Homo sapiens: one gene and its partners. The protein of the gene in region 1 purifies or fractionates together with the protein of each later gene. This does not show direct contact. Each region holds a gene or a part of one and is shown in the gene's direction. Other genes may lie near its edges. The genes, in order: EBF3, HELZ and PAN2.

Region 1 (3,651 bases):
TGAAAGACGGCACCTCCTACGCGGTGTGTACGCACAGGGCTTCCAAACCGTAAAGTTGTAACGGTGAGTCGGAGATAAATTAATATTGTTGAAATTAATGAACTGAGAAATTGAAGCTCACGTCACTACATGAACAAATGTATTAATATGTTATACATAAATTAATGAGAACGATCATTCTGACAAAAATTAAACAACACCAGCGGTAAAAGATTTTAAATTACATTCGTACCAGGAGTTCATGTGAAAGCGTCAGCCCCACTTGGCGTTTTCGTGCAAAGTTTTCTCTTCTTTCCTGAGAAGAGAAAAAAGGTCCCGAGGCGGTGCCATGACTCACGTCTCTCCGTGGCCCTTGCCTGGAGGTTCCAGGGCAGGTGGGCTGTGAGTGGCTTTGATTCTGGAGAGCCCCTGACTCACCATTACGATACAGAGAGATGACCGCACGGTCAGAGCCCAGACCTGGAAGCAGAGGGGGAAACTGAGGCCAGTCTGGTTCTCACATAGGGAGCGAGAGCAGGGCCTGTGAGCCGGCCTTGACTGGCGTCACGGGAGTGACCAGGCTGGGTCACCTCTCTCGACAGAGGGGGCTCCGGGCCTCCGTTGGCTTTGCACCTGTTGGCAGTGCACCGGTCAGTGTGGGGAAGCTGCAGCCTCTGCACACAGCAGTGCCAGGAGCCCTTCCCTTTTCCAAAAGAAGCCTTTAAAGAAGCCTTTGAGGAGGGCTGCAGGAGGGGCAGGACTGGGGGTTGTTGTCCCCACGTGTGCCCCCACCTCAGGAAGCAGATTCCCCAGCACGCCCTAACCACGCCCGAGGCTGGTGGACGGAACTGTGCAAGACCAGCCTCCCAGTTGAATAGGGGGGAAGGGCAGCCCCGCCCGCGTCAGCGTTGGCGGGAGGGCGCGTGGGGGAGCCTGCAGTAACTGCTCTGTCCTTCTGTCTTGCAGCTATGTCTGGGCTGGTAGTCCCGCCAATGTGAGGGACTTCTGTTTACCTTCCGCAGCACCCAGCATCAAAGGACGGACTTCAGGGGACACGTTTAGTATATTAAGACATGCTGATGGAAACAGTATCTTCAAAAAAATCAGCAGCAATTGAAATGCTACAAAAGACTTTGTTTAAAGATTTTATTTAAACTATTAAGAATCAACATGCAAACAGCCTACTTCTTCATGAACAATTCCATTTTATTGACTGAACTTTTCTCATATTTTCACATTTCTCAGTCCTGAAGAATAAGGAAAACAAAGCGACGCCTATTTTGTATAAAGTTTCCGACTCCGTCTTGGCCATGTCTAGTAATTGCTATGTGTTGGGAGAAACTTTGTGAATGCACCATTTTGATGATCATGAAACGCTGATGAAAAATGCCTCCAAACATTTTTCTGTACTCATACTTAGATTCACAATGGTTGTGTATCTCTATAATGTGAAATATTTTTTTGTGGTGATAAAAAGAGGGCCAAGGAGGTATGAGCCATCAGACTGGAAAAAAGGATGACTATATGATGAGGAGAAACTGGGGTGGCAGGGAGGGAGGGAGGGTTTATCACTGCTTAACTTCATCTTCATGAAATGAAACTTTGTAACTTATTGTAGTTAGAAATTGTAACTTTGATATTGAATTCTCTTGCCTTCAACAAGCACACTGACAGAGAAAAAATGCTACTGTCTGTTGGTTCCAATATTCTCCCACTGCTAGAGCTTCCTGTTAAGCAAGTGTGATCTGCAACATTTTTTCAACTTTTGCTAGCACTGTATACTATTGCATTCTTAGGCTACTGTGAGGTCTATGTTTCTTGTACCAGAAATTGTCCTTTTGACTTCTAGATCCTTCTTCCCTAATGTGTTTTGTATGTGGTTATAAAATTGTAGACTTTTGTGATTTTGCCAAAGTTGTAGCTAAATATTTATACACTTGTCTTGAATTTTTTTCAGATCCACTTAAAATATTTAGAAAAACAAGTTTTATTCCTTATGTGTCTTATAAGGAATAAAATGGTCTTCATTTGACACTTACTTTCCCATGAACACTTGCAGTTGCTAAGGGACTTTATTTTGTAACATATCAATTATAAATATTGTATTTATCTTTGAAATTTTGTACATTGCTTTTCCCACCTTTTCCTTTTTCTTCTTTCTTGTCTGTATTGGTTTTTGATCACGGCCTGGTGTTGTGATACTGGGAAGAGCATTAGCCAAGAACTTGTCTCTTTGATCTGTTTCGTTAAGCTGAACCAGTGTCTTTACATTTCATTTGTACTTCAAAAAATATGCTATTGTTTAGACTTTCCATCCTTTTTTTTTTTATTTTGAGGAAAAGTCAAATTCATTGTTTATTTTTATATTATTTTTAAGTTATCTGAACAAATACTTTTGAAAAAAAAGTTTGTTGTATAGTCAAAACAAATCGGTGCCACCCGGCCGTGACAAATCCTAGTAGATTCTGTGCATGTGGAGCGGCCGCGAAGAGGTGACACCGTTTGGGGCTGTGTCCTTATTTTATTTTATTTTTTTGTAGAATGTAAAAAGTCATTTTAGATGCCACCCATTGACTTTGCCACATAGCTGAACTGTGTTTACTGGAAAAATTCAGAGGCCTAAAGTTTAAAATAAAATTTACTTCTGATGTTTTAATTAAAATGTTTGCCACATTAACTTTTCTGATGCCTTAAAAGTGAACTTCTTTAAAGAACCTTTGTGCTATTTTATCACAGGCTTACACTACAATTGTTAATAAATACTTCATTTGGAGATGTATGGTGTAAAACACACAAACACACACAAAAAAGCACAAGCCCGCTGCATGACCCGTCTCTCCTTTCTGGGACTATTTCTGCTGCGTCCTGCACCCTCCTGGGCCCACCTCCGATTCACAGAGGTTTCAGGGGGACCCAAATCACTGCTGGTTTTCAATTTTTTTTTAACAATACATTTTTGTGGTCAGTTCCAACAGCACTGTCCGTACTTTTAAAACTGGAATGACCTCCTTCAGATATCGTGCCTCTTAGTGCCAAACCCACAGTGAGACCAAAAGTGTCAGGTGTTTTTTTTTTTTTCTTTCTCCTTTGCACTAAGTGCTTTGCAGACACGGCACAGCAAACATTTTGCAAACTGCAGCAGAAATCGAATTTAAAACAAAAAGGAGGGACTTTAAAATACCTTCTTGACAAAAATCAACAATGCACAACTTACAAAGTGTTCATTCTAGGGACAAAATTAAATAAACAGAATGTCCCCAGGAGTCAGCAGGTCACAGTCTGGCTTTGTGATGGTTGACAAGGTCTAGCTACATGGGAAAGCCTGAGAAGTCACTTTGGAACTAAATTGCCTCCATTTTATTTTGTACGAGTAAGGGTTTGATCTACAAAAGAGCTCACATGGACGCACTGAGAACGCCTGCCAGCTTCCCCATGCCCTCACTTGGTTTGTGTTTTAGGTTAAGTAGTCAATGCCCACATCACTTCACTGTCTCAAGACTGAGCACTTCACTAAATGGTAGATTTTACTGTTAAAGACCCTACAATAAGATTGTTTTATCTGTACATTTTTTCAGATATTTAACTGTATAAAAATGTTCATTTTACACAATATTTAATTAAAGTATTTCTTGTCTGTGAATTTCACTTTTGGTAATTTTCTCTGTTTTTGAT
Region 2 (3,651 bases), on another chromosome or scaffold:
ATTTATTATTTCACAGTAATTAATCTTCTTGGTCAGCTATGGTGTCTTCGTCTTTCATTATTACACTTAGAAAATGGTAATACTACAGAAATAAATTAGAAGGCTTTTAATACTTTCCTTATGAGGCATCAGAGTTAAAATTATTATTATTTTTTTGAGACGGAGTTTCGCTTTTGTCACCTAGGCTGGAGTGCAATGAATGGCACGATCTCGGCTCACTGCAACCTCCGCCTCCTGGGTTCAAGCAATTCTCCTGCCTCAGCCTCCTGAGTAGCTGGGATTACAGGCGCCCGCCACCATGCCCAGCTACTTTTTGTATTTTTAGTAGAGCCAGGGCTTTACCATGTTGGCCAGGCTGGCCTCAAACCCCTGACCTCAGGTGATCCACTCGCTTCGGCCTCCCAAAGTGTCAGGATTACAGGCGTGAGCCACCGCACCCGACCTAAAATTATTTTTAAATTAATTTTCTTCCTTTTTTTTTTTTTTTTTTTTTGAGAGACAGAGTCTTGGCAGTGTCGCCCAGGCTGGAGTGCAGTGGTGCAATCTCAGCTCACTGCAACCTCTGCCTCCCAGGTTCAAGCGATTCTCCTTACCTTAGCCTCCCAAGTAGCTGGAATTATAGGTGCCTGCCACCATGCCTGGCTAATTTTTTTGTATTTTTAGTAAAGACGGGGTTTCATTATGTTGGCCAGGCTGGTCTCAAACTCCTGACCTCATGATCCACCTGCCTTGGCCTCCCAAAGTGCTGGAATTACAGGTGTGAGCCACCATGCCTGGCCATGAATTTTCAGTACTTGTCTTTTGTGAGATATCTTCATCCGCAAAAAGCTTCAGGTCTTTTTTTTTTTTTTTTTGAGATGGAGTCTTGCTTTTGTTGCCCAGGCTGGAGTGCAATGGGGCGATCTCAGCTCACTGTAACCTCTGCCTCTTGGGTTCAAGTGATTCTCCTGCCTCAGCCTCCCAAGTAGCTGGGACTATAGGTGTGCGCTACCACGCCTGACTAATTTTGTATTTTTACTGGAGATGGGGGTTCACCATGTTGGTCAGGCTGGTCTCGAACTCCTGACCTCAAGTGATCCACCCGCCTTGGCCTCCCAAAGAGCTGGGATTACAGGTGTGAGCCACTGTGCCGGGCTAGCTTCAGCTCTTAATAAAATGACTTTCCATCCTCCCTTTTGCACTCTGGCTAAGACTTAAAAGAATATCTCCAGCTATTTTTTTACTCATCTGGTTTAAGCTGGACTTTTTAGCTTTGTGTTTTTTGTAGTTAAAAAAAAAATCTATCTACATTTTGCTTTTAATTGTTCTCAGGTCTCCTGGCCCCTGGTTCTTTGATTGTCTGAGTCCACACTGCCTTTTAACTGATACAGTCCACTGCTAAGTCAGCAAGTTAGCCTTGAGAATCCCAGAGACTTTAATGTGGCAATATTGTATATTTTTAGGGTTTACAGTGAAACTTGGGCTGACTACTTGCTGATTGGTTAAAGTAATAAATAAGTAAATTGTTAAAGTAATAAATGTTAAACTAATAAATAAATCAAAAAAATTGTTTTTTTTCGAGACAGAGTCTCACTCTGTCGCCCAGGCTGGAGTACACTGGTGGGATCTCGGCTCACTGCAACCTCTGCCTCCTGGGTTCAAGCGATTCTCTTGCCTCAGCCTCCCTAGTAGCTTGGGACTTTGCCATGTTGGTCAGACTGGTCTCGAATTCCTGACCTCAGGTGATCCACCCGCCTTGGCCTCCCAAAGTGCTGGGATTACAGGCGTGAACCACTACGCCCGGCCAGGTTCTTTGTTTCTTGAGTGTTCGCTTGTTTTGCATGATTTGTCTCCCACGGGTTCATAGGGATGATCAGAGGACCAATTGAGGCAGTTGGCTGGTCCTTGAAAAACTGGGGTTTGGGTTAGTATAGGTCATCATGACCAAGGAGAGTATGAAAACACTCAGTCAAGGCCAAAGTGAGCAGTAGAAGGGAGGGGTGGTCCTTTTGAGACTTTATCAAGCTTGTGTCCTGGAACCCCTTCATTTCCTTGGTAGGGTAGAACTTTATTATTTAATGTTGAATAAATTGATAATAAATAAATTGTTAAATGTTGGGTTATTATCCTAAGACAATTGATTTTCTTTTTGGCATTTCATTTCAAAATATACATTTTAAAATTCATTTTAAATTATGATACATTATAGTTTGATTTTTAAAAACTTACTATATCATGAAACATTTACATCTTATAGATTTTATAATTTAACTTTATATATTGAAAGGCTGCAAAAATAATTTCATCAAGTCATGCTACAATTTACCTAAGTCTTTTTATGTGAAGTATTTATACTGCTGTCTGGGTGGTTTTCAGTTAACACTTTAATCTACATCATTGTAGATACTGTTGCATTTTTTCTAATGATATCTTAAGGATAAATTTTGGAGTGTGTTATTATGTTAAGGGGTATCAGTGTTTTTATGGCTCCTCACATATATTGTCCTACTGTTTTCAAGGGTGTTATACCAGTTTGTGCTCCTAACAGATATATGGATATACCTGTTTTACCATAAGTAGTAGAGAAAACCATTTTTCTTCAGAAGTTTTTGTGAATTTAATAGTGTAAAATGGCACTTTCATTTCTTTGTTATATAATGTTGAATTTAACTATTTGAGCCTCTTTATGGTGAACTGTTTGTTGATATCAGTTGCTATATTATGCAATTAACTATTGTAGGCTTTGAATGGTAAGGCTGGTATAATATGGTCAGTAAAAATTGTTCACAAGAGTGTGTGGTCGAGGCTGGGTGCAGTGGCTCACGCCTGTAATCCCAGCACTTTGGGAGGCCAAGGCGGGCGGATCAGGAGGTCAGGAGATCGAGACCATCCTGGCTAACACGATGAAACCCCGTCTCTTCTAAAAATACAAAAAATTAGCCGGGCGTGGTGGCAGGTGCCTGTAGTCCCAGCTACTCGGGAGTCTGAGGCAGGAGAATGGTGTGAACCCGGGAGGTGGAGCTTGCAGTGAGCCGAGATAGAGATAGCACCACTGCGTACAGCCTGGGCAAAAGAGGGAGACTCCGTCTCAAAAAAAAAAAAAAAAAAAAAAAAGAGTGTGTGGTCAAAATGGTAAATGATCTTGGGAAGAGTGTTTGAAGGGGAACAGATGGATTATTCCAGGATTCAGTTCAGCAAGTATTTATTGGGCATCTGCTGTGAGCCCCTTTGTATCACTGCTCCTCTGAGTGGTTCTCAAGTTCTTGTGATGGCATGTGCTGGGTTGAAGCAGGACACTGCTTGAGGCTTGACCATTTGTGGGTTCTGGCTTCTGTTGTCTCTCTCTTTTTTTTTTTTTTGTGAGGGAGTCTCGCTCTGTTGCCCAGGCTGGAGTACAGTGACACGATCTCGACTCACTGCAGCCTCCGCCTCCCTGGTTCAAGTGATTTTCCTGCCTCAGCCTCCTGAGTATCTGGGATTACAGGTGCGCACTACCATGCCCTGCTAATTTTTGTATTTTTAGTAGAGACGGGGTTTCACCATGTTGTTCAGGCTGGTCTTGAACTTCTGACCTCGTGATCCACCCGCCTTGGCCTCCCAAAGTGCTGGGATTACAGGTGTGAGCCACCGCGCCCGGCCTTCTGTTGTCTCTTTGTGGCTGCTTGGATTGCT
Region 3 (3,651 bases), on another chromosome or scaffold:
GTGGTATACCCTTCAGCTCAGTTGGGAAGGCTCCCCAAAATGTCCTGTAATATCAGGGAGAGGGTGTTGGGGACTAACTGTGGGTAGAGGGGAGAACCAGGAGTATAGCATCTAATTTTCCCTCAGATAAAACTGGGAAGAACTATGACTTTGCTCAGGTGCTGAAGCGAAGCATCTGCCTGGACCAGAATACACAGGCCTGGTGTGACACCTGTGAAAAGTACCAGCCCACGGTGAGTGGACTGTTGGACTGGACTAGAGTCCTGGTCCTGCCATGGAGATTCAGCCACTATCCCATGTGGGGCTGGCTCTGTCAGCACTGCCATCCAGGGATCTCTGGTGGAGTGAGGAATCCCAGTTTGAAGACGCAGACCCAGGTCCCTGTCCAGACTCCTTTTCCTGTACATTCCCTGCCATTCCTTGTTTGTTTCTTCCTCTCAGATTCAGACCCGCAACATCCGCCATCTGCCAGATATTCTTGTCATCAATTGTGAGGTGAACAGCTCAAAAGAGGCTGATTTCTGGAGAATGCAGGCTGAGGTAAGGACTCAGACTAGAAACAAGGCTTCCGGAATAATTTTTCATTTTATCCCCCTTCTGACCTCCATATATGATTACATTCCTGAAGAACTGGATGTTTTTCTTCTGTGTTCAGGTTGCCTTCAAGATGGCAGTAAAGAAACACGGTGGGGAAATCTCCAAGAACAAGGAATTTGCTTTGGCTGATTGGTAGGTGCTGTCTTGGGAGTTGTCAAAGGATTGAATTGCCCAGTGGTTCCTCTTATCAAGACCTCTTTCGGAACAAATTTCCAATTCTTCTGACCTGATAGGAAGGAACTAGGGAGTCCAGAGGGTGTGCTGGTGTGTCCCTCCATTGAGGAGTTGAAGAACGTCTGGCTTCCTTTCTCCATTCGCATGAAGATGACCAAAAACAAAGGGCTGGATGTTTGCAATTGGACTGATGGGGATGAGATGCAGGTTGTTGAAAAACCGGGAAGAGGAAAGGGAATAAGGGAGAGAAGGTGGGGCAGAAGGTAAAGGAGGGCAGGGGAAGGTGAAACTTAGCAGAGGGAAAAGGAAGAGAATAAGGCCTAGTATTTACCTGTTAGGGGATTTTCCATAGTCACTCAGTTCAGTGTTGGGGTCCTAGATGGGCTAGGATGGAGATAACCCACCCTGGTCCCCCATCCCCCATACCCCCAACTCCCTGTCCTCTGTCCCCATTCCCCTCCCTTCCCCATCCTTAAACTTAGCTTAGCAGCCTGGGTACCCCCCTCACAGTGGGGCCCAGCCAGGGCAGAGGAGGAGCATGGTGTCTATGTGTATGACCTGATGGCTACTGTGGTACACATCCTGGACTCACGCACAGGGGGCAGCCTGGTGGCTCACATCAAAGTTGGAGAGACCTACCACCAGCGCAAGGAGGTGAGTGAGGTTGTAGAGGGCAGGAACACTCCTGGGATGGCCACAGTGAGTCCCAGATCTGTCCTTGAGTCTGAGACAGAGTGGTCCAGCCATCAATTTGTATCGCCACAGGCTTTCTTTGTATTTCCATAGGGCGTTACTCACCAGCAGTGGTATCTGTTCAATGACTTTCTTATTGAACCTATTGATAAGGTTAGTTGCAACATGTTCTGTTTCTTCTTTCATTTCCCCTTTTCCTAGCATCCTTATCTTTAGGGCTCTATAGAATGCCAGGCAGATTCAACAGGGAGGGAGGAAGGAATCCTCAGGAATAAAAACCATTAGCACTTAAAAATAGCACCTGAAAAAAAACAAAAACTAGCACCTGAGTCCTGGCCTCCGTCTGAAGTGGGGGAAAAGGAAAAGGGTGATATACATTAGCCATAAGTGCTTTTTCTCTTCTATAGCATGAAGCTGTGCAGTTTGACATGAATTGGAAAGTACCTGCAATCCTTTATTATGTCAAACGGAATCTCAATTCCAGATACAACCTGAACAGTAAGTGCTACATAGTAGACCCAAGTGTGTGGACAGTTTAGATTGGGCTTCAGGGTGAGATCTGGGACATTGCTTGCAAGTACTTAGGATTGGTAACCAGTGTTAATATTTCTGGAGATACTAAAGAGATTCCTGCTCATCAGACCTTAAATTTAGAAGTGCGAAATCCAGCCTGAGCAACATAGCAAGATCCCATCTCTTTGAAAAAAAATTTTTTTTTTTTTTTTGAGATGCAGTCTTGCTCTGTCACCCAGGCTGGAGTGCAATTGCGCAATCTCGGCTCACTGCAACCTCTGCCTCCTGGGTTCAAGCGATTCTCCTGCCTCAGCCTCCTGAGTAGCTGGGATTACAGACGCCCACCACCACACCCGGCTAATTTTTTTGTATTTTTAGTAGAGACAGGGTTTCACCATGTTGGTCAGGCTGGCCTCGAACTCCTGACCTCATGATCTGCCCGCCTCAGCCTCCCAAAGTGCTGGGATTACAGGCGTGAGCAACTACACCCAGCCTAAAAAAATTTTTTTTTTTTTTTTAATTAGCCTAGTATAGGCCAGGCACAGTGGCTTATGGCCTGTAATCCCAGCATTTTGGGAGGCTGAGGCGGGCAGATCACTTGAGCTCAAGAGTTCAAAACCAGTTTGGGCAACATGGTGAAACCCTGTCTCTACAAAAAATACAAAAAGTAGCTGGGTATGGTGATGTGCTCCTGTTGTCCCAGCTACTTGGGAGGCTGAGGCAGGAGAATCACTTCAGCCTGGGAGTCAGAGATTTCAGTGAGTCAAGATTGCATCATTGCACTCCAGCCTGGGTGACGAGAGTGAAACCCTGTCTCAAAAAAAAAAAAAAAAATTTAGCTGAGTGTGGTGGCATATACTTGTGGTCCCAGCTATTGGAGAAGCTGAGGCGGGAGGATCACTTGAGCCCAGGAGGTCAAGGCTGCAGTGAGTGAGCCATGATTGCACCAGTGTACTCCAGCCTGGGCAACAGGATGAGACTGCTTTTTTTTTTTTTTTTGGACAGAGTTTCACTCTTGTCACCCAGGCTGGAGTGCAATGGCACAATTTTGGCTCACTGCGACCTCCACCTCCCGGGTTCAAGCAGTTCTCCTGCCTCAGCCTCCCGAGTAGCTGGGACTACAGGCACCTGCCACCATGTCCGGCTAATTTTTTGTATTTTTAGTAGAGACAGGGTTTCACCATGTTGGCCAGGTTGGTCTTGAACTCCTGACCTCGTGATCCACCCTCCTTGGCCTTCCAAAGTGCTGGGTTTACAGGCGTGAGCCACAGTGCCCAGCCTGAGACCCTGTCTTAAAAAAAAAAAAAAAAAAAAAAAGCAGCTGTAAGTCTTGAGAGTGGAGTGGAAATGAGATGAGGGGGGGATGTTTGATCAGAATGGCTTAGGTTATGATGTTACATCTAATTATTCTTTTTTTTGAGACAGAGTTTCGCTCTTGTTGCCCAGGCTGGAGTGCAATGGCATGATCTCAGCTCACTGCGACCTCTGCCTCCCGGGTTCAAGCGATTCCCCTGCCTCAGCCTCCCAAGTAGCTGGGATTACAGGCATGTGCCACCACGCCCGGCTAATTTTTTTTTGTGTCTAATTAGTAGAGACGGGGTTTCACCATGTTGGGCAGGCTGGTCTCAAACTCCTGACCTCAGGTGATCCGCCCGCCTCGGCCTCCCAAAGTGC

The links.
Region 2: the proteins of EBF3 (region 1) and HELZ purify together in Homo sapiens (affinity purification with mass spectrometry, with the first as the bait; one large-scale study listed by BioGRID). This does not show direct contact.
Region 3: the proteins of EBF3 (region 1) and PAN2 purify together in Homo sapiens (affinity purification with mass spectrometry, with the first as the bait; one large-scale study listed by BioGRID). This does not show direct contact.

What each region holds. Positions count from the first base shown.
Region 1 is NC_000010.11:129,835,255-129,838,905, reverse strand, and holds part of EBF3 (transcription factor COE3), read left to right. Parts: intron 1-945; coding exon 946-963; coding exon of another isoform or gene 964-977; 3' UTR 978-3,651. UniProt on the Homo sapiens protein: Transcriptional activator. Recognizes variations of the palindromic sequence 5'-ATTCCCNNGGGAATT-3'.
Region 2 is NC_000017.11:67,235,192-67,238,842, reverse strand, and holds part of HELZ (probable helicase with zinc finger domain), read left to right. Parts: intron 1-3,651. UniProt on the Homo sapiens protein: May act as a helicase that plays a role in RNA metabolism in multiple tissues and organs within the developing embryo.
Region 3 is NC_000012.12:56,320,389-56,324,039, reverse strand, and holds part of PAN2 (PAN2-PAN3 deadenylation complex catalytic subunit PAN2), read left to right. Parts: coding exon of another isoform or gene 1-3; intron 4-126; coding exon 127-233; intron 234-441; coding exon 442-540; intron 541-655; coding exon 656-729; intron 730-830; coding exon 831-978; intron 979-1,281; coding exon 1,282-1,425; intron 1,426-1,557; coding exon 1,558-1,617; intron 1,618-1,871; coding exon 1,872-1,962; intron 1,963-3,651. UniProt on the Homo sapiens protein: Catalytic subunit of the poly(A)-nuclease (PAN) deadenylation complex, one of two cytoplasmic mRNA deadenylases involved in general and miRNA-mediated mRNA turnover.